Homo sapiens: one gene and its partners. The protein of the gene in region 3 interacts with the protein of the main gene of each other region in a pairwise test. Each region holds a gene or a part of one and is shown on either strand. Other genes may lie near its edges. The genes, in order: TCP10L, TRIM41, MFAP1, MAD1L1, ZFP41, TLE5 and KATNBL1.

Region 1 (4,139 bases), on a different chromosome or scaffold from region 3:
CTGGGACTACAGGCATGTGCCACCATACTTCGCTAATTTTTGTATTTTTACTCGGGATGGGGGTTCACCATGTTGCCCAGACTGGTCTCAAACTCCTGGGCTCAAGCAATCCACCTGCCTCGGCCTCCCAAAGTGCTGGGATTACAGGAATAAGCTACCATGCCTGGCCATAGCTTTATTCTTATTAAGTAGTGTTTATTATGAGTTAGTCCACATAATATAACCAGATAAAGATGGTTAGTGAATTATGATTTTTTTGTTAAAACACTACTACAGCAAAAAGAGGCTGGCATTCTTTTCCTTTTTTTTTTTTTTTTTTTTTTTTTTTTGAGACAGTGTCTTTCTCTGTCACCCAGGCTGGAGTGCAGTGGCGCAGTCTCAGCTCACTGCAACCTCCACTTCCCAGATTCAAGCAACTCTGGTGCCTCAGCATCCAGAGTAGTTGGGATTACAGGCACATGCCACCACACCTGGCTAATTTTTCTATTGTTAGTAGAGACAGGGTTTTACCATGTTGGCCAGACTGGTCTCAAAGGCTGTACTGGCATGGATATATGGTCAATAGTTTAAAAATTATGGAAGCCGGCCGGGCGCGGTGGCTCACGCCTGTAATCCCAGCACTTTGGGAGGCCGAGGCGGGCGGATCACGAGGTCAGGAGATCGAGACCATCCCGGCTAACACGGTGAAACCCCGTCTCTACTAAAAATACAAAAAATTAGCCGGGCGTAGTGGCGGGCGCCTGTAGTCCCAGCTACGTGGGAGGCTGAGGCAGGAGAATGGCGTGAACCCGGGAGGCGGAGCTTGCAGTGAGCCGAGATCCCGCCACTGCACTCCAGCCTGGGCGACAGAGCGAGACTCCGTCTCAAAAAAAAAAAAAAAAAAAAAAAAAAATTATGGAAGCCACTGCATTTTCAACCTAACATGTTAGCCTTCCCCTGGGATCCTTCACTGGATCGTAGAGCCTCCAGCCTTGCTCTGAGAATAAGTGGGATCGTGATAAAGGTACAGTCCTGCACTGGGTGGCCCTGGCCACAGGGACCCGTGGGACTTTAATGACAGCAAGCACTGTCCAACAGGGTCCAATGAGGAAGATGGTAAAAATCAGGAAACTTGCTGGGATGATGTGAGGCATGTCAACTTTCTGATTTTCTTTAATGAAGTTTTTAAAGTCTGGTGCCTTCTCCTGGATTAGAGGAGAAAAGCTGGAATGTTAATATTTTCTTTAACTCCCTGCCCTGCCTCCCATCCACCAAGAGATACGGTTGCAGAGGGGGAAAGAGCCACATGCCCCTTGGAGAGGAAGTACAGAATCAGTGTCCCGGGGTGGTGCATTCCTACAGGGGTCCAGCAAGGGAAAGTCCAATGACGGGCCTCAGGGACAGGAATCAGGGTCCCGCCTGGTGGGACTAACTCTGTCCCCACAGAGCTCAACTCACTGGCATCTCCCCAGTGTTGCAGTCCTCCGTGAGAACCTCGGCTGCCACAGCTGTCTTCTCCATGACAGCCCCAGCTCCTGGGCACGGGTCCTCTGGGTGGGTGCCCTCTTTGGGGTCCCTGGCCTCGAGTTGACCTGCCAGCATCCTGGTTGGGAAGGGAAGGGCTATGGGGACACTTGAATGCAGCCCTCCTACCCCGTCAGTGTGGGCTGAAGGCCCCAGCCCCAAACTAAGGGTGAGCAGGACCCGCAGCCGCTCCTTCTCCCCCTGGGTCATGTGCACATTCCCAGGCCCGAAGCTGACCAGGTGAAAGGACACCACAGACAGAGGGACTGAGCTGTCCACACCTGGCTCTCCACCATCCTCCGTGGAAAATGCTTTAGATCCTAGAAGATCAGCCTGACACCTAACACACTCCAGTCATCCAAAGAGGGGTGTGAGTGGGGTGTGAGCCGGTGTGAGTGGGATGTGAGTGGGTTGTGAGCAGGATATGAGCGGAATGTGAATGGATGTGAGCGGATGTGAGCACGATGGTCTTGGGGTATGAGCAGGTGTGAGTGGAATGGTCTCAGGGTGTGAGCAGGTGTGAGTGGAGGGTCGCATGAGACACCGAGGGAATTCTCAGCCCTTTAATCAGCACCCACCTGGAGGGGCACAGGCAGACCCTCCACCGTGTTGAGTATGTGTCTTGAACCATCAGGGTGACATTTGTGAATTCATGGTGAAGATGTGGAAAGGAAACACCTTTTTATAGGTACAGCATTTATGCCAGTTCTAGGAAGTTCACAGCAATTAGAGAACAAAAACGAAAGAGAAAAACGCAAAGCTTTCCTGCAAGCCTGCAGGGTCGTCTCTGAAAGCTGCCTCCACCCCTGCCTTGCCCTGTCCGTTTTAGGAAGCCAGTGGCCCCCAACGAAACCCCGACTGTTTAATTCATAAACTTCTAACTGTGTGAGAAGGAACAGTTTAACCACAGTGATCGGAGAAATGCTATTTAAAAGAGAGTCTCCTGATGGAAGCGAATCGAAGGTCTAGAGCAAGACCTACCAGTAACCAGATCACTGCCATTCCTTCCCCGCGGAGACTGGGAATGTTTCTGCGGAAGTGGGCTGGGGTCACGGTCCTCACAGCCCTGAGAAAGCTCCTTCTTTCCTGCTCCTCTGAGGGGACACCCCAGTGTCCTCGGCCCCAAACTCATGACCCCCTCAGTCCAGGGAAGACCCTTTCCTTCAGCCCCACCACCAGACCTCGTCACCTCACCTGGTCCCCAACAGTCACTACTGCCAGGATCAGATCATCTGGGCCATGTCCCCACAGTTGTCCCCAAGCCCTCCTGCCTCATATCCAGAGACCAGAGAGCAGCGGACAGTTCCAACGGACTTTCTGTCTTAAAGGGACATGAACGTCTCACTCAGCGTCACCACTGTACCAGCTCAGATAATAATTAAACATCCCCAAACCTGCAATTCTTAATATAGAAGCTCATCGTCAGTGGAGTCCATCCATCCACAAAGGACATTGGAGAGAGTCAAACTACTCCTCCAAATTGACAAAAACCATGTGTTTTATATCCAGTCTTCAATACGCAACGTGTAGTAAGAGCTCATTTCTCTGAGCATACATTCTTGGAGAAATACAAACTTTCTTCGGATATCAAATTATTTACTAGAAAAAACATTTTTATGAAGGGAAAATAATATATGTGAGTTTAAATAGGAGACAGGATTCAAAGTTTCATCATTTCACTAAATGCATCTCCATCTGAATTGTCCGTGTGATTTTTGTGATAGAGAAGAGAATGAGGAGCAAGCAAGAGTCGATATTCCTGTTAAACCCTGGCTGTCCTTCTCATCCATGGTGCTGCGTGTGGACAACATACACCTGGGGCTCACCTGAGCCTGCTTGGGACGTGTGTCACTTGGATAGTTCTGCAAGCGATTCGCATGCAATAGGCAGTAAATGCCGACGTCATGAATGAATGAAGAGAATACTACAAAGAGGAAACAGAAGGCACTTTTGTCCCCATGTGTCATTCTAACTGTGAGAGTGTGTGTGTGTGTCCTGAGGTGTGCGAGTGTGTGTGTGTGTGTCCTGAGGTGCGTGAGAGGTTGTATGTTTGTCCTGAAGTGTGTGAGAGTTTATATAGGTTTCTGAGGTATGTGAGGGGTTGTGTGTGTCCCTGAGGTGTATGAGGTGTGTGTGGGTCCTGAGGTGTGTGAGTGGTTGTGTGTGGGTCCCTGAGGTGTGTGAGAGGTTGTGTGTGGGTCCTAAGGTGTGTGAGTGGTTGTGTGTGGGTCCTAAGGTGTGTGAGAGGTTGTGTGTGGGTCCTAAGGTGTGTGAGTGGTTGTGTGTGGGTCCTAAGGTGTGTGAGAGGTTGTGTGAGTCCTGAGGTGTGTGAGAGGATTGTGTGTGAGTCCTGAGGTGTGTGAGGGGTTATGTATGGGCCCCTGAGGTGTGTGAGGGGTTTTATGTGTGTCCTGAGAAGTGTGATGAATTGTGTGGGTCCTGAGGTGTGTGAGGGTTTGTGTATGAGACCCTGAGGTGTGTCAACATTGTGTGTGAGACCCTGAGGTGTGTGAGGGGTTGTGTGTGGATTCCTGAGGTGTGTGAGGGCTTGTGTGTATGAGCCTGAGGTGTGTGGGTTCCTTATATGGGTTCCTGAGGTGTGTGAGGGGTTGTGTGTGTGTCCTGAGGTGTGTGAG
Region 2 (3,500 bases), on a different chromosome or scaffold from region 3:
GGCCCTCAATGAACACACATCCATTTCAACCACCCCATGCCTCGCCATACCTAACTCGCCTCATCCTGCTGTGAGCCCAGGGATACTGTCATTTCCACAATACGACTTGCTCACCTTTTTCAGGATGTCACTGTCAAAAAGACTTTCCTCAACTGTCATTTAAACCTCTCCTACAACCGAATCTTCATGCTTTTCACTGGGTATAATCGCCACACATACCACATTCGACATTAACTCTGTTTCCAGCTTTAAAACATGTTTTTGGTCTTCAGGTTCAATCACTGTGGGTTCCTCCCAGGGAGAAAAGAGGCAGCTCTGGACAGGCGTTTGGTAAGCACTGCCTGACAGCCAACACAGAATGCTGGGGGAACAGGGAGGGGACATTGCTCACCTGGAGCAGCCGGAGACCCCCCTGCTGGCTCCGCTCCTGGGCCTCTGCCAGCAGGCGGCTGAGCTGGGCGGCCTGTTCTGCAAGGCGACTAGCCGCGGCTCCCGCACGCCCCAGCTGGGCTTCATGCATCTCTCTGAGACGCCGTTCCAGCCCTGCCTGCTCTTCAGCCAGAAACCGTGTCAGTCGCCCAAACTCCGAGGCCACCGCTGCCAGCTCTGACTTCATCTGGCTCTGGAATGGTGCAAAGGGGATGGCAGACACCACCTCAACACGTACGAAGATAACCTCCAGTTTTGCAACTACTACTTCTCAATGCAAGGCAAAGGAGCCCTACACTCCCCAGGTCCAAGATAGTCCCGGAAAGAGGCTCATCCCCTACCAGCCTTACCAGATACCACCCCCTTGCTCCCAGCACAGTGGTCTCAAACTCACTAACCTCTGCCTGGAACACTCCTCTCCACCTGACTCTACCTAAGTTGACTCATCCTTCAGGTCCAACCTTAAATATTCCAAGACAAGCCTTCCCTCCTCTCCAGATCTAAATCGGGACCATCCCCACAAATATCACTGTATCTCTCTGTGGCACATATAATATTGAAACGTTGTGTTTAAATGACGTAACTGTTAACATCCTTTCCCCCACTGTACCATGAGCTCCCACTGACAGGGACTAGGAATGTCTTTGTTTGCCAGGGTCCTCGGACCCTGACATAGTACCAATCAGAGTAGGCACCTGGTAAAAATTTTTGAAATGAATAAATAAAAGAATTCAGGAATCAAAACATGAAGTTAGGGTCCCGACGCCATTAAACACAGTGACCTTAAGAAAGTCACCCAAAAGCCCCAGATCAGAACTCGGAAAAACTTTTTCTGTGAAGGTCCAGATAGTAAGTATTTTTATGCTTTGTGGGCTAAGAGGCAAAAATCAAGGATATTATGTAGGGACTTAATATCCTGTAACAGAAAAAACTCCTGCCCAGTCCCACCCTATTTGCCAGGGATGGCCCTTCCTGGGTGGTAGGCACACTTTTCACACAGCTACCATCGGCTGCAGACGCTGTGAGCAGCAGGCCAGAGGAGGGTCCCAACTGACCAGACGCGTGAGGGAACAGCCGCCACAGTCAGCTTCACTCTATGCCAGGGGCACACAGCTCCTGTTACCTCTATACCCAGGAGAGCCCAAAAGTATCAACTTGGGCAGCTGGCCAGAAGCACGATGACTTCCTACTCCCAGACAGATCCTACCATTCAGTGCCTAGCAGTCGCCAGCAGCAGAGTCCCTAACGTTCAGGTGGCAGTGAGCATGGGCCCTGGGTAGTGGCAAGGCCCAGGCACTGGCTGGGAAGGGAGGAGGGAAGAGGGACAGAAGGGGAGGTCCTGGCTTGGTCTATGAAGCTCACAGTGCCAGCCCATCCCAGCAGGACCTGCTGGGGTTATGAAAACAGGCGGGAGGTGGGGATGGAAAATGTATCTTAAAAGACTCCTTGGAGAAGGGCGAGCAATAATGGAAAAAAACAACAAAAAAAGCGGGGGGGTCGGGGTGTGCTGAGAAAACACTAGACTAGGAAATATTAGGTCTCTGCAGTGCTAACATACACTAAATCCTGCCCCAGCTTAAACACACTGGCCCCCTCTCAGGACACAGCAAGTGTCCCAGGACAGTGTCCGCCTCATGCTTAGGGCTGCTCTGCCCAGTGCCTGCATGGATCCTGGGGCCGGCAGCTTCTCTGATGGCTGCTATGTGGGTTTTGCTTTGCCCCCTTCAGGCTCTGGTGTCGGGTAGAAAGCCTGTTCTGCAGCCTTGGGCCAGGCACCTAGGCCCTCCAATCCAGGCCTCAGTTTCCACTCCATTTTGGAACCAGGAATGAACATGCCTCCTGATTCTCTAAGGCCCCGCTCTCCTCAGCACCTAGGGAAAGCATCTACCCCTCTCCCAGGCCTTAGCTGTCCCCTCCTCAGGGGACCAAGTCACTCCCTGTGAGAGTGGGAAGCCCTACCTTCCTTGCCTCGACTGTACTGCCCATCAGCCCCGTCGAGAACATTCACCCACCTTCAGTTCTGTCACTCGCCTCTCCTCCTTGGCTTTCATCTTCTGCACTGCCTCCAGGTGCTTCCTCAGTGGTTCCACGTGCCCCTGCAGTTTGGCCTGAGGAAACAGAAAAAGAAAAGTGGGGGCTGGGAGAGGCACCTGCCCTTCAGAGCCTACCTCTGCAATCCTCCCTATAGCAAGATGGGTCAAAGCCTGATCCCTACCCCCGAAAATGGGTGTCAAGTGAGTATTATACCTTCCTCCACTTTCTTCTTTCAGATGATGACAAAAGCCTCCAATCCCTCTGTGCACGTCTGCAGAAGCCCTGTGTGTATTTTTTTTTTTTTTTTTTTTTTTTTTTTTTGAGACAGAGTCTCGCTCTGTCGCTCAGGCTGGAGTGCAGTGGCACGATCTTGGCTCACTGGAACCTCCACCTCCCGGATTCAAGCGATTCTCCTGCCTCAGCCTTCCCAGTAGCTGGTACTACAGGTGCCCACCACCACGCCTGGCTAATTTTTTTATTTTTAGTAGAGACGTGGTTTCACCTCGCCATGCTACCCAGGATGGTCTCAATCTCCTGACCTCGTGATCCGTCCACCTCAGCCTCCCAAAGTACTGAGATTATAGGCGTGAGCCACCGCGCCCGGCCGGCCCTGTGTGTATTCTCTAAAGGTAGGAGCCTCAAGACTAGAGAGCTCCCACGCTCACAGCTGAGGGGAAGTGGCTTGAGCCCCGCACCAGAGTCTTTCCAGGGGTGCCCTCACCTTTGGTCCCCTTCCCCTTCACAGGCGATCTTCCCCAGAACTCTTCTCTCTAAATACTTTTCTGATGATTTTTTTCCTATGCTAAAACCTTTCCATGGGTCACCACCACTTCCAAAACATTGACCCCACACTTCCAGCCTCACCTCTACACTCAACGCCTTCCACACAGACTCTTAACACGTTTGACCACATAAAATTACTTGTCATTTCCTGAGTATAATTCCATGCTGTTCCCTCTGTCTGGGAGTGCCTTTCTCCACTTGGCCCAAGGTATTCTTCCTTTAAAACAGCTCCCTGAAAATGGCCCTGATCCTCC
Region 3 (3,500 bases):
CACCCACCTCGGCCTCCCAAAGTGCTGGGATTACAGGCATGAGCCACCACGCCTGGCCCTCAGCCTGTAGTTTCTAAGATTTTTATCCTGGACCTGTAGGAGTAGGAGTCTAAGTGCCCTTTAAAATTGTACACAAGGCCGGGCGTGGTGGCTCACGCCTGTAATCCCAACAATTTGGGAGGCCGAGGTGGGCGGCTCACAAGGTCAGGAGTTTGACACCCGCCTGTCCAACATGGTGAAACCCTGTCTGTACTAAAAATACAAAAATTAGTCGGGCATGGTGGCACACACCTGTAATCCCAGCTACTCAGGAGGCTGAAGCAGGAGAATAGCTTGAACCTGGGAGGCAGAGGTTGCAGTGAGCCAAGATCATGCCACTGCACTCCAGCCTGGGCAACAGAGCAAGATTCCATCTCAAAAAAATATAAAATTGTACACAAAATTGTGTGTATGTATGCATTTTATTTGGAGACAAGGGATATCACTCCCTCTCCCCAACACTGGCTAAAAAGTTACTGCAATCTGGCTGGGCGCAGTGGCTCACGCCTATAATCCCAACACTTTGGAAGGCCAAGGCGGGCGGATCACGAGGTCAGGAGATTGAGACCATCCTGGCTAACACGGTGAAACCCCGTCTCTACTAAAAATTCAAAAAGATTAGCTGGGCATGGTGGCGGGCACCTGTAGTCCCAGCTAATCGGGAGGCTGAGGCAGGAGAATGGCATGAACCCAGGAGGCGGAGCTTGCAGTGAGCCAAGATCACACCACTGCACTCCAGCCTGGGCGACAGAGCAAGACTCCATCTCACCAAAAAGAAAAAAAAAAAAAAAAGTTACTGCAATCTAATTAATGATGGTAATCTTTGGTTTATGACATGCAAGCACCTATATGATTATGATACACTTACATAAAGGAATACCAGCAAAGCCTCAGACACTTATTTTAAATTCACTGATTTTTTTTTTTTTTTAAAGCTAAGAAGACCTTTTAGGGAAAGAGAATTTGTAATGTTGGAAAACCCAGCAGTAATAGTATGTCTGAACGTCAGAAGGGCTAGAATCAACTTTTGAAAGTTGGCAATACCTAGTCTAGCAAACATAATGAAGACTAACTCACCCATTTGTTTATTGAGCTCCTTATCTTGATTCCTAATAGGCAATGACTAGAATTAAAGAAGGTGACTAATACTTGAAATGACATGGGACTGTTATTTTCAGATAATTTGGTCTTTCTGAAGCTGTAACAGTACCAATAAATTGTTTTGCTCCCTGGACAGGCTTGAGAAGGAGAAAGCAGAAATTGAACGCATGCGAAACCTGACTGAGGAAGAGAGGAGAGCTGAACTTCGGGCAAACGGCAAAGTCATTACCAACAAAGCTGTTAAGGGCAAATACAAGTTCTTACAGAAGTATTATCACCGGGGTGCCTTCTTCATGGTAAGAAGTGAAAAGAGAGTCAGAAAATTGGGCAGTAGGAATAACTCAGAAACTTTGAATTATTTTTCTCTTCAAGAATATTCTGGAATGTAATTTCCACTTGCCAGTGGTCAGCTTTCTCATTTGCTTTTTCCTTCTGAACAATATAAACTCAGAGAAAAGCATCAGCAATTGGATGACAGAAGTAGCATCAACTGTTCTCTCTTTTGGCCCCAACTCTCAAAAATAGGAAATGATGTAATAGACTTTTTTTTTTTTTTTAAGAGACAGAGTCTCGCTGTCACCCAGGCTGGGGTACGGTGGTGCGATTATAGTTCACTGCAACCTTGACGTCCTGCGCTTTACACCTGCTTCAGCCTCCAGAGTAGCTGGGACTACAGGCATGCAACAACCATGCCTGGCTTTTTTTTTTTTTTTGGTTATTTTTTTTTTAATTTTTCGTAAAGACCAGGTTTCACTATGTTGCCCAGGCTGGTGTTGACCTTCTGGCCTCAAGCAATCCTCCCACCTCAGCCTCCCAAAGTATTAGGAATACAGGCATGAGCCATCATCCCCAGCCTTAGATAAATTGAGGAAATGAAATAGAGAAGTGATCTGTACAGATAGTGGACTAATTAGGTCCTCCACATGACATAGTTGTCATTCTTTCATAGCTGAATGAGAAGTTTTGGTTATGTGAAAACCAAACTCTGCAAATAGCTTTACATTAATTCACTTTTGGGTGGCAGAAAGTTAGTTCACTTCATTCTGAACTGACAGTACCCAAGAGTAACTAACCAAAAAAAATGGTTTATTATCTAACCATTAGATGGAATGCCGTCATCTTTGTTTTTCATATAAAGACTAAGATCAAAATAGCAATCTGTTAACCCTGTATGGTTTATTTCCTAATGTTAAAGCAGTTTGCACCAAAAACTAGACTAGCTTTTTCAAGTGCCGTGTGGCAAATTCTAAATATCCCCACTGCAACTAAATTCCTGCCTTTCACTGCAGATGCTGTTAAAACTTCAGTGGCGGCTTCCCTGCCACCCTCCAAAATCAGTTTCAGGTCTATCTGATTAGCAGGAAGTGTTTACTTAGGTAGTTTTCCAGCAGATGTAGCTTACTATTCAGTGGAGATTATGAACTACTTCTTGTACTGCTTCGGTCATAAAGTTTGTTTGCTTAAGCAGTTCGCAGCTTTAATAATCAAGTTTCTTAGAGAAGCAGTTCATTGCTAGTTAAGATACATAAGAAAAGTGTATGTGAAAGTCCTTTGGTGGGCCAGGTACATTGGCTAATGCCTGTAATCTTAACATTTTGGGAGGCAAGGCCAGCAGATCAGTTGAGCCCAGGAGTTCAGCCCGGGCAACATGGCAAAACCCCATCTCTACAAAAAATACAAAAATTAGGCGTGGTGGTCCGTGCCTGTAGTGTCACCTATCAAGGGGCTGAGGTGGAAGGATTGCTTCAGCCCGAGAGGTTGAGGCTGCAGTCAGCCGTGATCGTGCCACTGCACTGCAGCCTGGGTGGCTGACCAAGACTTTGTCTCAAAATAAATTGTTTTTAAAAAGTCTTTCTTAAACAAGATAGTGCTATTTTTAATTCCTTCAGCATATGTGTTTATAAATATGTATCACAGCATTGTAATATTATCACTCAGGCTAGAGTGCAGTGGTGCAGTCATGGCTCACTGCTGCCTCATTCTCCTGGGCTCAAGCAGTCCTCCTGCCTCAGCCTCCTGAGTAATTGGGACTACAGGTGTGTGCCACCACACCTAATTTCTATTTTGTAGAGATGGGTTTTGCTATGTAGCCCAGGCTGGTCTCAAACTCCTGGGCTCAAACTCTCCTTCCACCTTGGCCTCCCAAAGTGCTGGGATTACAGGCAAGAGCAACTGCATCCAGCCTTACTAATGTTGTTTATTTCATTGAGTAAGTAAGCTTTAGTGCATATACTATGCAAAGGTCACTGTTTAGCACTGTTAGCGAGAATACATAATCACTATAACATAAGTAAAAGTAAAGTACTGTAGGGGTTCTGACGAGAGAGATGTTATATTTGGTAGAAGATTGAAAGGGTTGA
Region 4 (3,500 bases), on a different chromosome or scaffold from region 3:
AATAACTTTTGTTTTCCTGTTCATTCCTACTTGTATTATTTCCTCCTCCTGCTTCGGGCTTGTTTTTCCCTTCGTTTCTTGAAGTAGGAATTTAGAGAAGCGATTTGAGATCTTTCTCCTTTCCTGATACAGGCATTGAGTGCTGTCCGTTTCCCTCTAAGCACTGCCTTGGGTGCGTCTGGCAAATTTCATTATGCTGTATTCTTGTTTCCATTCTGTTCTCTTTTTTATTTCCTTCGAGGCATCCCATTTGACTCGTGGATTACTTAGAAGTGTGCTGTTTAATTTCCAGGCACTTACAGTTTTCCTGTTGTCTTTCTCTGACTGGTTTCTGGTTTTGATGTCCACTGGTGTGGCCTCCACCTCTTCACGCCACCCCACAGATGAACAGCATTCACATAACTTCCCAGTATCTCGAAGTAGCATCGTTTCCATTTCCTGCGTGTCTTCTCATTTTACTGCATTATTTCAGCTTTCCTTGTTTGAGCCAGGATTCAGGGCTTCCTTCATTCCATCTCTAGCTTCCTCCCCTCGAGTTTCCCAGTTCATGGAGTTTCTCTTGGACCCTCAGCAGCAGGGGGTCTTGTTCTTGACAGGAATCCCTCACACTTCCCCCTTGGCCTCCGAGCCCCACCACATCCTGCGGTTGGTGGTGTGTGGAGAAAGTGGTGTGTGGAGAGAGTTGGTGGTGTGCGCTGTCTCTGCTCTCCAAGCCCTTTGTCAGCCCCCACCCCTCCCTCACTCCGTGCCTCTTGTCCGTGCCCGCTGGGACACCATGGGGCTCGGCTCAGGGGATGGTGGGACCAGCGCTTAGTAAGACTAGTCAGCCCTAGGCACCGAGTGAGCACTGCTCACGTGGCAGAGCTGGAATGGGGGCCGGGCACACAATCCCTGGCCCACGTGTTCCACGGACATGCTGCAGAGGTCCCCGGCCCTCCAGGGCAGGCCCTCTCTGCTTCCAGAGGGGCAGGTGAGCCCCAGGCCAGGCCAGCGAGGGTCTGGACTAGAGTGCAGTGGCCACAATGGACGCCGCGAGTGTCTTCATTAAGAGTGAGTGTCTCAGTCTCCCCCAGGGCGCCCGCCAGCCACAGGGCCGCTATGTGCGCAGACTAGACAGGTGGCAGCTCGGGCCGGCCAGGCAGAGGGAGAGGAAGCCAGAGCCTGCGCGCAGGCAGCCTCAGAAGTATTTCCAGCCACAGCCAACGTGTCTTACTGGCAATTTGCTTTTTAAAAAATTGCAGTTTAATTTTAAGTGAGCAGCCCGTAATTACAGTGATTTACGAGGTACCTGGGGACTGTGTGATATTTGAACATGGCAGAGGGCTGAGCAGCGATGGCAGAGATGGATGGGCCCGGCGCCACTCATTCAGCAGGTCCTGCTAATGCCGGAGCGTTAGACCGAGGTGGAGCCTCCCAATGTGGCTGGGTACGCTGGGGGAAACGGAGTCAGAGGTGGGCTGCACAGCAGGTCGACTTGTTCACCGGGGGCTGGTGTTTTGCAAACGCTGGGTCTGCCTTCGTGTGGGGTTTGAGCTGGGAGAGTAGCACTGGTTACTCCTGCCTGTCTCCGTCCACCCCCACCCCCACCTGGAGGGCAGCGCGGTATATTAGGGCATCATTCTTCCAGAGCCGCCTGAGGCCGGCAGAGAGGAGGTGCTGTAGGAGCCGTGAGTGGGTTGCCCGGCCTACCATTGGGAGCAGCTGTCTTGCTGACGCTGGCGGGGTGCACCTGTTTCAAATAAAGAATGATCAGAGCTCACGCCTGTAATCCTCACGTCGTGGGCAGCTGAGGCAGGAGGATCACGTCAGGCCAGGAGTTTGAGACCAGCCAGGCCAGGAGTTTGAGACCAGCCTGGGCAAAATAGCTAAAGTCTATCTATCTCTCAAAAAAATTTAAAAATTAGCCAGGTGTGCTGGCACATGCCTGTCATTCCAACTGCTCAGGAGGCTGAGGTGGATCACTTGAGTCCGGGAGCTCGAGGCTGAGTGACCCGTTATCATGCCACTGCACTCCAGCCTGGGTGACAGAGTGAGACTCGTCTCTAAAAAAAAATATTTTTAGAAATGAACGGCCAGGCTCCCAAAGCCTGCCAGCCTCTGAGGGCCGGGGAAGGCGGGTGCCTGGAAAACAGCTATTCTCTGGTCCAGCCTGGCCAGAGTCTGCACCACAGTGCGTCAGGCCCAGCCAGGTTGCCAGCCCTGGGTTGGGAGGAGGGCGAAGGGCCGGCTGAGGAGACTTCTTCCCACACTGCCTCCCCACCCCTGCCCGGCAGCTGCAGGAGAATCAGCCCCTCTGACATTTAGGGGGAGAAATTCAGAATCAAGAGCAGAAGGCAGAAGTGAAAGGATTTTCTCAGCGAAAGGTCAGAGTGGTTTCTCTTGTTTTTGTTTAAAAATGGTTTGTGTTGAACTATGACAAGGCCAAATGTACTAAGGCAGCAGAAACAGGGGGAGGGCAGGGGGAGGGCACGGGGACGGCTCCTGAGAAACAGGAGGTGCAGGAACAGGTCAGGTCGCAGGGCCTCTGGGGCAGCACGTGCTCCAAAGGTGGTGAGGGGAGGGGCGACACCATCAGGGCGGGGCCCAGCCCAGGCATGCTCCGGTGGACAGGGGAGCTGCCAGGACCAAGCTGGATGGAGCCAGGCCGCCCTGTGGCTCCTGGGGAGGGTTCCCAGAGGGCTGCCGGGCGGAGGGAGCGCTTTCCAAAACGGTTTCCTGAGCTCCGATGCACACACATGCAGCTCACCCTCACGTCTAGCGCTCCATTAGTCTACCGTTCCGTTCCTCCCGGCACATTCAGTGCGCAGCCGCGACCAGTCTAACCGTGGCACATTTCCACTGGCCCTGAGCCCTGACGTGCCCCTCCAGGACATCCCCTGGGCACGGAGTTGTGTCGACAGGTCTCTGTGACTGGCTGGGCGTGTTTTCGGGGTTTGCCCGCGTGGCAGCGTGTATCAGAGTTCGGCTGTACGAAGCGGTGTTGACGGGTAAACCCGGTTTTGTGTCTCCCTCCGGCGGTTGAGGGCTGGTTCCGCGTTCCATCTGTTGGTGATGGGATCGTGTTGCCGTGGACACCCGTGCCGAGGTCTGTGCGTGGACTGCGCTCAGACCCCCTGGCTGCGCGCCCGGGCGGGTGCTGGGCCCATGGACTCTGCGTCCAGCTCTTTGAGGAGCTGCCGGCTGTTTGCAGTGGCCGCACCACACACGCTCCCGCCAGCGACGCGGAGGGTCTGATTCCCCTCGACCCAGCAGCTCATGGTGGTTGCTCTCAGTGGCCGTCGGCGCGAGGCGGCTCCGTGTCTCGCTCAGTTGCGGTTCACGTTTCCCCGGTGCCCAGCGTCCTGGCATGAGCTCATTGGCCGTGTGTGGCTCTTCTCTGGAGAAATGTTCAAGGGCCCCTTGTTTAATTGGCTCTTTCCTCTTCATGGTGGAGTTGTGGGAGTTCTGGGCATATTCTGGGTACAGGACTTTTCAGGGACGTGGTTTCAGAGGGAGCTTTG
Region 5 (3,500 bases), on a different chromosome or scaffold from region 3:
CCGGCTTCAGCTCTTGGTCTTGCTATGACATCAGGAATTCATCTGTCTGTGCCTCCGGCTTCAGCTCTTGGTCCTGCTGTGACGTCAGGAGTTCGTCTGTCTGTGCCAAATGATAGGGACAAAAAAGATGGCAGACTGGTTTTGTTTTGGTTATGCAATTTTTCTCATAACCATAAACGTTAAAAAAAATTTCCAAGTGGATTTAAAAAAATGTATCTTTTATTTTTGAGACAGGGTCTTGCTCTGTCATCCAAGCAGGTCTTGAACTCCTGGCCTCAAGTGATCCTCCTGCCTCGGCCTTCCAAAGCACTGGGATTACAGATGTGAGTCACCACATCTGGCCCCAAAAATGTATCTTTTGTTGTTTTCCATGCCGATTTTGTTGAAGCCAGCTCTCTCATCTTTTCCTTGGAGAAGTATCCAAGGCAGTCAGTTTGCATGGCCCCCATTTCGTGTGTGAACCAATATCTGATCTCACTAACACCAGCATGTGGGGCGAGCCCTGATCTCACTAACACCAGCACGCGGGGCGAGCCCTGATCTCACTAACTCCAGCACGCGGGGCGAGCCCTGATCTCACTAACTCCAGCACGCGGGGTGAGCCCTGATCTCACTAACACCAGCACGCGGGGCGAGCCCTGATCTCACTAACACCAGCACGCGGGGCGAGCCGTGATCTCACTAACACCAGCACGCGGGGCGAGCCCTGATCTCACTAACTCCAGCACGCGGGGCGAGCCCTGATCTCACTAACACCAGCACGCGGGGCGAGCCCTGATCTCACTAACACCAGCACGCGGGGCGAGCCGTGATCTCACTAACACCAGCACGCGGGGCGAGCCCTGATCTCACTAACACCAGCACGCGGGGTGAGCCCTGATCTCAAGAACACCAGCACGCGGGGTGAGCCCTGATCTCACTAACACCAGCACGCGGGGCGAGCCCTGATCTCACTAACTCTAGCACGCGGGGAGAGCCCTGATCTCACTAACACCAGCACGCGGGGCGAGCCGTGATCTCACTAACACCAGCACGCGGGGCGAGCCCTGATCTCACTAACACCAGCACGCGGGGCGAGCCCTGATCTCAAGAACACCAGCACGCGGGGCGAGCCCTGATCTCACTAACACCAGCACGCGGGGCGAGCCCTGATCTCACTAACTCTAGCACGCGGGGAGAGCCCTGATCTCACTAACACCAGCACGCGGGGTGAGCCGTGATCTCACTAACACCAGCACGCGGGGCGAGCCCTGATCTCACTAACTCCAGCACGTGGGGCGAGCCCTGATCTCACTAACACCAGCACGCGGGGTGAGCTCTGATCTCACTAACACTAGACGCGGGGCGAGCCCTGATCTCAAGAACACCAGCACGCGGGGCGAGCCCTGATCTCACTAACTCCAGCACGTGGGGCGAGCCCTGATCTCACTAACACCAGCACGCGGGGTGAGCTCTGATCTCACTAACACTAGACGCGGGGTGAGCCCTGATCTCAAGAACACCAGCACGCGGGGCGAGCTCTGATCTCACTAACACCAGACACGGGGCGAGCTGACACGGTCACACAGTTCGTAGGATCCAGCAGTGTGCTTACGACGTCACGTATTACGGTTCTTGTTCTTGGCAACCCTGTGGGGTTAAGCACTGTCAGCATCGCCATTTCACACCTGGGAAAACTGAGGCAAAGGCCCCACAGTTCCAGAGTGAGGGTCAAGTCCACAGCCCCTGACTTGAGAGCTATGCTCTTGACCCACTACGTGCGTCCTAGAAATCAAAGACATCAGATTAAAGTGTGAGTTTAGGATCAGGAACCCACCTGCCTGCTGCTAGAGAGGCTGAGGTGGTCCTGCCAGCCATGCGCTGCTGCAGGCGTCTCTGTGGGCATGACCTGGGGCTGGCATTTGGTGAGATGTCAATCCACACCTGGGAATCCGTCCTATTGGCCCTAAATATGGAAAAGATATTTATTGTGGCATTATTTATAATAACCTAGGTTGGAAACAGCCCACATGCCCATGCTGGGAAGTGGATAAGTCACCTGTGCCTTTTCGATTCAACTGGTCATTGTGCAGGCATTAAAAGTAATGCTTCCTTCCTGGCCAACATGGTGAAACCCCGTCTCTACTAAAAATACAAAAATTAGCTGGGCGTGGTGGTGCGTGCCTGAAATCCCAGCTACTCGGGATGCTGAAGCAGGGGAATCGCTTGACCGCGGGAGGTGGAGGTTGTGGTGAGCTGAGATCGTGCCACTGCACTCCAGCCTGGCAACAGAATGAGACTCTGTCTCAAAAAAAAAAAAAAAAAAAAAGTAACGCTCCCTATTGTCAGTAACGGGGAAAAGCAACGATCATACTATCATAAGTAAAATCAAACCAAATGCAGACACCACCAGGGAATGCGTGCCCGTCTCCTGGGCCATCCTAGACAGCCGTGTCCACACTTGCCACCCTCTGTGGCACATCCCGACAGACAGCAGAGGATGCCTGCTCTGAGCAGCTCCCTGTCCCGCCCCCTGGTTTCTTTCTTGTGTCCGAGTTCCTGACTCCTGACGCCGGCTCTTCCCTGCCAACAGCTAATTCTGAAGGACACTAAGACACAGAGAGCGTGTGCAAGGACTGGGAGTTGTGTTAGTTCATTGTGTGTTACTATAAAGGAACACCCGAGGCTGGGTAAGTTTTTGTAACGAGGTTTACGTGGCTGGCGGTTCTGCAGGCTGCACAGGTATCTGCTTGGCTTCTGGTGAGGCTGCAGGGAGGGAGCAAGAGACGGGAGGAGGCACCAGGCTCTTTAATGCAGGAGTCCCTGACCTCAAGACGGGTCCATGGCCTGTTAGAAGTGGGTCACACAGCAGGAGGTGGGTGGCAGGCGAGTGAGCGTTACCGCCTAAGCTCCGCCTCCTGTCAGATCAGCGGTGGCATTAGATTCTCACTGGACCACGAACCCCACCGTGAACTGCATGCGAGGGATCTAGGTTGCACGCTCCTTATGAGAATCAAATGCCTGATGATCTGAGGTGGGACAGTTTCATACTCAAACCATCCACACCACTCCCTGTCCACGGAAAAAACTGGTCCCAGGTGCCAAGAAGGTTGGGGACCACTGCTTTAAACAACAAGCTCTCCAGTGAACCTCAAGAGTGAGAGCTCACTCATTACTGTGAGGAGGGCACCAAGCCATTCTCGAGGGATCTGTCCCCGTGACCCGAATACCTCCTGCCAGGCCCCTTCCCACACTGGGGATCACATTTCCACATAAGATCTGGAGGGGACAGACGTCCAAACTATACCAGGAGCTCGAATGCACCCTTCACCTAGGACAGGATCGGCAAGCAAATCCGGCCCACCTCCTACGTTTGTAAATAAAGTTTTATTGGCACAGCCACGCTCGTTCATTCATATGCCATTGACATCTGCTGTTGCCCTACACAGCAGGGTGGGGACCTGCTCTTCACGGGAGAGCTAGTTGTTTAAAGCAGTGGTCCCCAACCTTCTGTGGTCCCC
Region 6 (3,500 bases), on a different chromosome or scaffold from region 3:
CATGCCCGGCTACTTTTTGTATTTTTTTTTTTTTTGAGATGGAGTTTTGCTCTTGTTGCCCAGGCTGGAGTGCAGTGGTGCGATCTCAGCTCACCGCAACCTCCTTGAATTCAAGTGATTCTTCTGCCTCAGCCTCTTAAGTAGCTGGGATCACAGTTGCCCACCACCACGCCCAGCTTTTTTGTATTTTTAGTACAGACAGGGTTTCACCATGTTGGCCAGGCTGGTCTCGAACTCCTGGCCTCAAGTGATCTGCCTGCCTCAGCCTCCCAAAGTGTTGGGATGACAGGCGTGAGCCACACCGCACCGGGCCACAGCTAGGAACTCCTGATGTTCTAGGAGGATGTCTCACATTGGAAGGAACCCCGTCCTCCCCCGGGGGCAGCCACAACACAGAGGCAGGGACACAGCACCGAAGCTTCTCACATCTTTATTGGAAAGGCACAGCTAAGCCCACCCTTGATACAGCATTTTCCACTTCTCTCTGTAGAGATCAGACGATTGAACACGAGATAAGCTGACTATATACAGACACAGGTGTGGGTGTTGCTTTTTTTTAAAAACACTTTTGTCTTTTTTTTTTTTTAATATCCCCTTTCTTAAAAGACAAGCTAGTATACTGGAAAAAGAAAAAAATAATAATAAAATAAAAACCAAGACAACTTTAGTACCCTCATCTTTATTTGGGAAGGGGAGGGGGAATCCTGGGTCGCCCACCCTCACCCTGCTCCTCCCAGCTCAGCTAAGCTCGTCCCTCGTGCCCCCCCTTTTGTGGGCGATGGGAGAGGACCAGGTGGGCGTGGAGGTGTCTGGAACTAGCAGAGGTGGTGAGTGGGGCAGGTGGAGGTGGGAGCATACCTGGGACCCGGGGTCGGGGGAGACTCGGGGTGCCCAGGACGGGAAAGGGGCAGCTAGCATTGCGTGCATGCAGTACCAGGGTGAGAGGGCTGTGGCCCAGGCAGACTGTCGGTTACACATGTTCAAAACGGGGGAAGGGCCGGGGCTGCTGCGCTTCGCGAGGTCTTGCTCCCTTGGGACCTGGTCTCCCATCTGACCCTCCAGGCCTTAGCTTGCCTCACATGTCAGGGCAGGTATCCACCTAACCAGGCTGCAGGGGAGGAGGAGGGAAGCCGGGAATGGGGTAGGAAGAAAGCTAGAGGTGGCCTGCAAGCTGGGCTGGGGCCCCCGCCGGCGGCCACCATAAATACTATGGGAGTTTAGCCAATCCCGAGCTCCGCTGTGTCTTGTGCTAAACATTCCTTTCTCTCCGTGCCTCTGTCTCCCCTCTGTCCCCCCTCCCAACCTCCCTGTCCCGGCCCCCTGCTAATCCGACTTCTCGCCATCATCCTCCTGGTGGGTGTCACCATCGTGCCCGTTCTTGTCTTCCTTGGAGAGGTGGGCCTGGGAACCCAGCGCGGACAGCGAGAGGAGGCCGGTGCCTGCGCTGACCGCCGGCAGCGAAGGCGGCTGCAGCCCCACGGGTAGTGGGGTCAAGGGCAGGGCCAGGGCCTGCAGCTGGGACAGCTGGTGGGCTTGGAGCTGCTGCTGCAGGGCGGGGGAGGGGAACATTAGCTGCCTGGGGCCCACCTGTCCCCCGCCCACCCGCCCAGGTCCCCATACATACTCGGATGATAGAGTTCAGCTCGGGAGCGGTGACCTGCTTGGCCCTCTCAATGGCTCCCAAGACCTGCTGCTGGTGCTGGAAGGGGGTCGGGGGAGAGGAGAGGCAGTGATTCCTCCTGATCCTGGGAGAGGAGAGGGGGACGGCCCTGAGGCCAGGAGGAGCCCCACTACCAAGTGGGCCATCATGTCTGCTCCTCCCAGTGGTTTTCAACCCCATCAGAAAGCACCCTCCCTCTCTCCAACTGCTTCCTTTCACCAAGCTCGTCTCTTCGTCTGGCCAACAGAGACAAATGGAAAAGTGCAGAAAACAATTAAAAGGGTTTTGTGCTAAGTAGTTAGGAAACAGCTTTTGAGTGAGCCCGGGAGAAACCCTGGATCCTGACCTATCCTATGTGCACAGCCACCTGCAAAGATGTGAAACATGTGAATGTTTGTGCAGTACACAACCTGCCCAACTGTACAGGGACGTCCTGATCCTAGGAGCTCCAAGACTGTGCCCTGAGTCTGGCCAAATTGAGCCCTTCTCCTACCATGGCTGGGGAGGGCCCAATGAATTCTGGCAGGGCTGGCTGGGGAATGGGCTCAGATTCAGGGCAGTTCCTCCCTGAGCTCTCCCCAAACACCTGACTCTGTGGCCAGCAGATGCTAGAATCTACCAATCTCCCTTTTTGCCTTGGCTACCAGGAAGCCTCTGTTCTGAAGGGCTCCAAGTGCCCTTTTCTCTAGGGCTTTCATTGGGTCCTGCTAAGACTTGTCCCTGGGCAAAGCAGGGCACCCAAAGGATCCTGAGATACCCACAGGGATTGAAGAGGAAGTTACAAACTTTTGACAGTAAACTTGGCAGGGACAGGAGATGGGCCTTACATGGCCCTGGGGAGGGGCGGCCTCGCATCCTGAGCCTCAGAACCCAAGAAAGGAGAAGAGGAGCTGGGCGTCAGGTTCATCTGGGTGTGTGTGTGCATGTGGTAATGTGTGCTCAGGATCACGTGTGCCCACGTGTAGCTGCACATTCCTGCATGCGTGTCCCTGTGCTGTCTGCACACACGTGTATCCGTGTCTGCATCTGTGTATCTCCCGTGTGTTGATGTGCTCGTGCCTATCTGTGTGGCTGTGTCCATGTGTGACCACCCTGTGCTACCCCTTCCCCCACAATCCCCTAACACCCTCTAGTCCTTGGTCCTGTGCAGCCCGCATGGCCTGGAGGAGGATGTCTCAAGAGGGTGAAAGGAGGAAGAGAGATGAGAAAAAAACATTCCTGGTGCAGTTTAGGCCCATCTGACATTTCTACCTATGACATGACTCACTCCAGCTGGGAATTCCAGAGCAGGGTGAGGCCCGCCCCCCACACGCCTGCACCCCTGGAGTGTCTCTGGCCCGGGGATTCTTCTGCACAGGCCGGCTCTGGTGTTCAGAGCCAGGGAGGTCCAGAGAGGGGAGGCGTGTGCCCTGGGGCGCCCAGCACACCACCCAAGATGGCTGCAGTGGACAGGGGCTGGGCAAGTGCGGGGCCCCCTCACAACCCCTCCCCAAGGCCCTGGCTCTTACCTCTTGGGAGAGGTAGGGCAGGACCTGGGCACAAATCCCGTTCAGCCTTTTGACGATCTCAGCCTGGAACACACAGATGAAGCCGGCTTCAGTCCTGGGCGGGTGGCAGGTGCAGGCTAGCCACAGGAGGCCTGCGCGGGGCCCGGCCCAGCCCTGCCACTTGCGGCTTCTAAGAGGGGCTAGGTCTGGCCAGGGTGGGATGAGCAAAGCCGTGTTCGGGCCCGAGGGCAGCCAGTCAGTGGCAAAGGTGGGGCTGGACACCGGCTGTCGCCTGCAGCTTAGAGTGAGGTAAGTGCAGGATGAGGCCAGACTGCACATTCCTCGGGGGTCGG
Region 7 (3,500 bases), 9.6 Mb from region 3:
TTACAATCCTCTGGCTAGACAGAAAAGTTCTCCAAGTCCCCACCCAACCCAGAAACCCAGCTGGCTTCACCTCTCACCTACTCGGAACAACTCAAAGTTGATATCTCAAGGGTTTAATATTTCCTGAATGATGATTCATCACACCACTTTCTCTCTCTCTCTTCTTTTTTTTTTGAGATGGAGTCTTCCTCTGTCTCCCAGGCTGGAGTGCAGTGGCGCCATCTCGGCTCACTGCAACCTTCGCCTCCCGCATTCAAGAGATTCTCGTGCCTCAGCCTCCTGAGTAGCTGGGATTACAGGTGCGTGCCACCACGCCCAGCTAATTGTTTTTTTTTTTTGTATTTTTAGTAGAGATGGGGTTTCACCATATTGGCCAGGCTGGTCTCGAACGCCTGACCTCTTGATCCACCTGCCTCAGCCTCCCAAAATGCTGGGATTACAGGCGTGAGCCACCACGCCCCGCCCACCACTTTCTCTTAATTCAGTTTTCCACAGTAAGCTGATTTGAGAAATAACGTCAAACTCGGGAAAGCAGATCAAGCATGAAAATAAAGACAGATGTCTGGAGATTCAGTGGGTACAATACTATATCATTTCAATCAATTTGGATCAAACTGAATTCCAACTCTCTTATGACTGAGATACCCTGAAATAAAAATTACAAAAGAGATGCCAAGTGGGAATTAGCTTTCCTACTACCTCTTCCTCAGTGTTTTTGTTTTGTTTTGTTTTGTTTTTTGAGACAGCGTCTTGCTCTGTCGCCAGGCTGGAGTGCAGTGGCGCCATCTCAGCTCACTGCAACCTCTGCCTCCCAGGTTCAAGCGATTCCCCTGCCTCAGCCTCCCAAGTAGCTGGGATTACAGGTGCACACCACCACACCTGGCTAATTTTTTGTATTTTAGTAAAGACAGGGTTTCACCATGTTGGCCAGAATGGTCTCGATCTCCTGACCTCGTGATCTGCCCTCCTCGGCCTCCCAAAGTGCTGGGATTACAGGCTTGAGCCACCACACCCGGCCTCTTCCTCAGTTTTAATCAAGTCCACTTAGATTACTACATTAGGGAACTGGGACTAATAATGGGAAAATAAAATTAAAGAACTAGGTAGATGTTTATCACCATCCATAGTTGTGGACCTACACAGGCTTTTTAAAAAACATAACTATGCCTTATACTGGAAAGTAGGGAGAAAAAAGTAAGGTAGCAAAACACTATGTTACCACTTAGGTTAAAAAGTGTGTGTCTGTGAGGGACTACTTGTATATTCACTAAATATCTTTTGAAGGATATGAGAGAAACTGGGGACAAAAGTCACTTCTAGTGAGAGGATATGTGTGGCTAGGGGGTGAAGGGAGAAGACTTTTCCCTTTTGGGCCTTTTGAATTTTGTATAATGTGCAAGTATGTTTTAACTTAATTATAATGTATTAGAGTATTATATACATATTTTCTTAAATGGCTATAAAACACCTGAATCTTTGGGAAGACTTAGGACTTCTTACGCCTAGAAGTAGATGGTTATGATTATTCTAGCATGTTTTGGTGAATTCGCCAAATTCCAATTTACTTTCCCTGTTAGAATAACCCAGTATTTTCTGGAAATATTCAACAGGGAGGAAAAAATACTTGATTCTGTTTTAATTGTCTTCTTGGACTCAGAAATGGAAAATATATATACAACTGGCCCTCTGTATCCGTGGGTTCAGCATCTGTGGATTCAATCAATTCCCAATCAAAACTATTTAGAAAAAAAATACATCTCTACTGAATATGTAGACTTATTTTTCTCATCACTATTCCCCCAATAATACAGTATAACAACTATTTACATAGCATTTACATTGTACTAGATATTACAAATAATTTAGAAATTATTTAAGGTGTATGGGAGGATGTGCAAAGGTTATGTGGAAATACTACACCACTTTATATCAGGGATTTGAGCATCCTCGGATTGTGATATCATTGGGAGGTCCTGGAACCAATCGCCCATAGATAATGAGGGATGAATGTATACATACATAAAACATTGTCACTTTAAGGATCATTTTTGACCCTTGTTTGCCTACTAAAGGTATTTCTGATACTTTCAAAACCAATAGACTCTCTACATATGAGAGGATATACCAATAAAGTAGTATTCAACTCTCAAAATGATGAGCTAATATAAATTAATTAAAAAACTCTATCTTCATTATTTGGACTAATGTCACCACCCTACGACACTTGTGCCTAATTTCTACAGTACCAGAAGTCAACAGGGTTAAGTATACCCTAAGCCTTGGAAAAAAGGGTAGATCATCCTTTAAGAATTAACAAAAATGATACTAGAGACATTCAAAATCTTTTTATAACAACGGTTCTTAAACCTTTATGTTCCAAAACTTGTGAGGATTATATTACATCCCCAACAGTTACAGTGGTTGGGCACCACCATATCTCCTAGGCTGAAATCAGAACGTATATTAAGGTTTGAAAATGCCTCCTCTCTCAGGGAACACTTTCTTCTCCAACAGAAGAATCACTTGCAGGCTCAAGAAAATATGACTCCTGTGTCCAAGACTTAACTATAACAAAAATTAACATATTAACTTTCATTTAAGAATAAAATCTCGGCCAGGCGCGGTGGTTCACGCCTGTAATCTCAGCACTTTGGGAGGCCTAGGTGGGCGGATTGCCTGAGGTCCGGAGTTCGAGACCAGCCTGGCTAATACGGTGAAAACCCATCTCTACTAAAAATACAAAAATTAGCTGGGCATGGTGGCAGGCACCTGTAATCCCAGCCACTGGGGAGGCTGAGGCAGAAGAATTGCTTGAGCCCGGAAGGCGGAGGTTGCAGTAAGCCAAGATCACGCCATTGCACTCCAGCCTGGGCGACAGCAAGACTCTGTCTCAAAAAAAATAAAAATAAATAAATAAAATCTCTCATCATACTGTTTCACCTAAACTCTGGATTCAAATCTCCAACTGCCTACTAGCCAGCTCCACATGGATATCCAATAGTCATCTATTCTTGAACTTAACATATTAAAAATAGAACCCTTAATATCCCCCCTCTCAAATCTGCTCCTCCCAACAGTCCCTAACTCAGTAAACGGAACCATCCTCCTTCCAATTTCTCAAGCCTGAAATAAAGGATTCATCCTTGATTTCTTTTTTCCTTAATAACCTACATCCAATTTGTTGACTTTGCCTTTATAATATATTCCCAAGCTGTCCGTTTCTTTCCATTTCCATTACCACCATTCTAGACCAAACCACCAACTCCTTTAGACTATATAATAGCTTCCTAAATGCTTCAGCCACACTGGCCTTCTGTCCTTCAACATTTCAAACTTATTTCCATTTTGTGGCTGAGCCATTCTTTCTGCTTAAAATATTCCTCCCACACACTCACCACCCAATCAAGAATAACCCCACCCTCACTTACAATCATTCTCTATAGCAGTACCCTGTATTTTTCCCCCACCACATTTATCACCATCTGGAAATTAGCTTATGC

The links.
Region 1: the proteins of MFAP1 (region 3) and TCP10L interact in binary tests that used the Homo sapiens proteins (3 or more experiments, as listed by UniProt).
Region 2: the proteins of MFAP1 (region 3) and TRIM41 interact in binary tests that used the Homo sapiens proteins (3 or more experiments, as listed by UniProt).
Region 4: the proteins of MFAP1 (region 3) and MAD1L1 interact in binary tests that used the Homo sapiens proteins (3 or more experiments, as listed by UniProt).
Region 5: the proteins of MFAP1 (region 3) and ZFP41 interact in binary tests that used the Homo sapiens proteins (3 or more experiments, as listed by UniProt).
Region 6: the proteins of MFAP1 (region 3) and TLE5 interact in binary tests that used the Homo sapiens proteins (3 or more experiments, as listed by UniProt).
Region 7: the proteins of MFAP1 (region 3) and KATNBL1 interact in binary tests that used the Homo sapiens proteins (3 or more experiments, as listed by UniProt).

What each region holds. Positions count from the first base shown.
Region 1 is NC_000021.9:32,582,724-32,586,862, forward strand, and holds the start of TCP10L (T-complex protein 10A homolog 1), read right to left. Parts: upstream 2,801-4,139; 5' UTR 2,698-2,800; intron 1,583-2,697; 5' UTR 1,582-1,582; coding exon 1,438-1,581; intron 1-1,437. UniProt on the Homo sapiens protein: May be involved in transcriptional regulation. Has in vitro transcription inhibition activity. Acts as a tumor suppressor in hepatocellular carcinoma (HCC) cells.
Region 2 is NC_000005.10:181,229,781-181,233,280, reverse strand, and holds part of TRIM41 (E3 ubiquitin-protein ligase TRIM41), read right to left. Parts: intron 2,538-3,500; coding exon 2,442-2,537; intron 623-2,441; coding exon 392-622; intron 1-391.
Region 3 is NC_000015.10:43,807,691-43,811,190, reverse strand, and holds part of MFAP1 (microfibrillar-associated protein 1), read left to right. Parts: intron 1-1,276; coding exon 1,277-1,436; intron 1,437-3,500. UniProt on the Homo sapiens protein: Involved in pre-mRNA splicing as a component of the spliceosome.
Region 4 is NC_000007.14:1,816,946-1,820,445, reverse strand, and holds part of MAD1L1 (mitotic spindle assembly checkpoint protein MAD1), read left to right. Parts: intron 1-3,500. UniProt on the Homo sapiens protein: Component of the spindle-assembly checkpoint that prevents the onset of anaphase until all chromosomes are properly aligned at the metaphase plate.
Region 5 is NC_000008.11:143,253,439-143,256,938, reverse strand, and holds part of ZFP41 (zinc finger protein 41 homolog), read right to left. Parts: exon of another isoform or gene 3,348-3,500; intron 1-3,347. UniProt on the Homo sapiens protein: A putative DNA-binding regulatory protein associated with meiosis in spermatogenesis.
Region 6 is NC_000019.10:3,052,496-3,055,995, forward strand, and holds the end of TLE5 (TLE family member 5), read right to left. Parts: intron 3,232-3,500; coding exon 3,169-3,231; intron 1,700-3,168; coding exon 1,625-1,699; intron 1,546-1,624; coding exon 1,324-1,545; 3' UTR 415-1,323; downstream 1-414. UniProt on the Homo sapiens protein: Transcriptional corepressor. Acts as a dominant repressor towards other family members. Inhibits NF-kappa-B-regulated gene expression. May be required for the initiation and maintenance of the differentiated state.
Region 7 is NC_000015.10:34,200,097-34,203,596, forward strand, and holds part of KATNBL1 (KATNB1-like protein 1), read right to left. Parts: intron 1-3,500.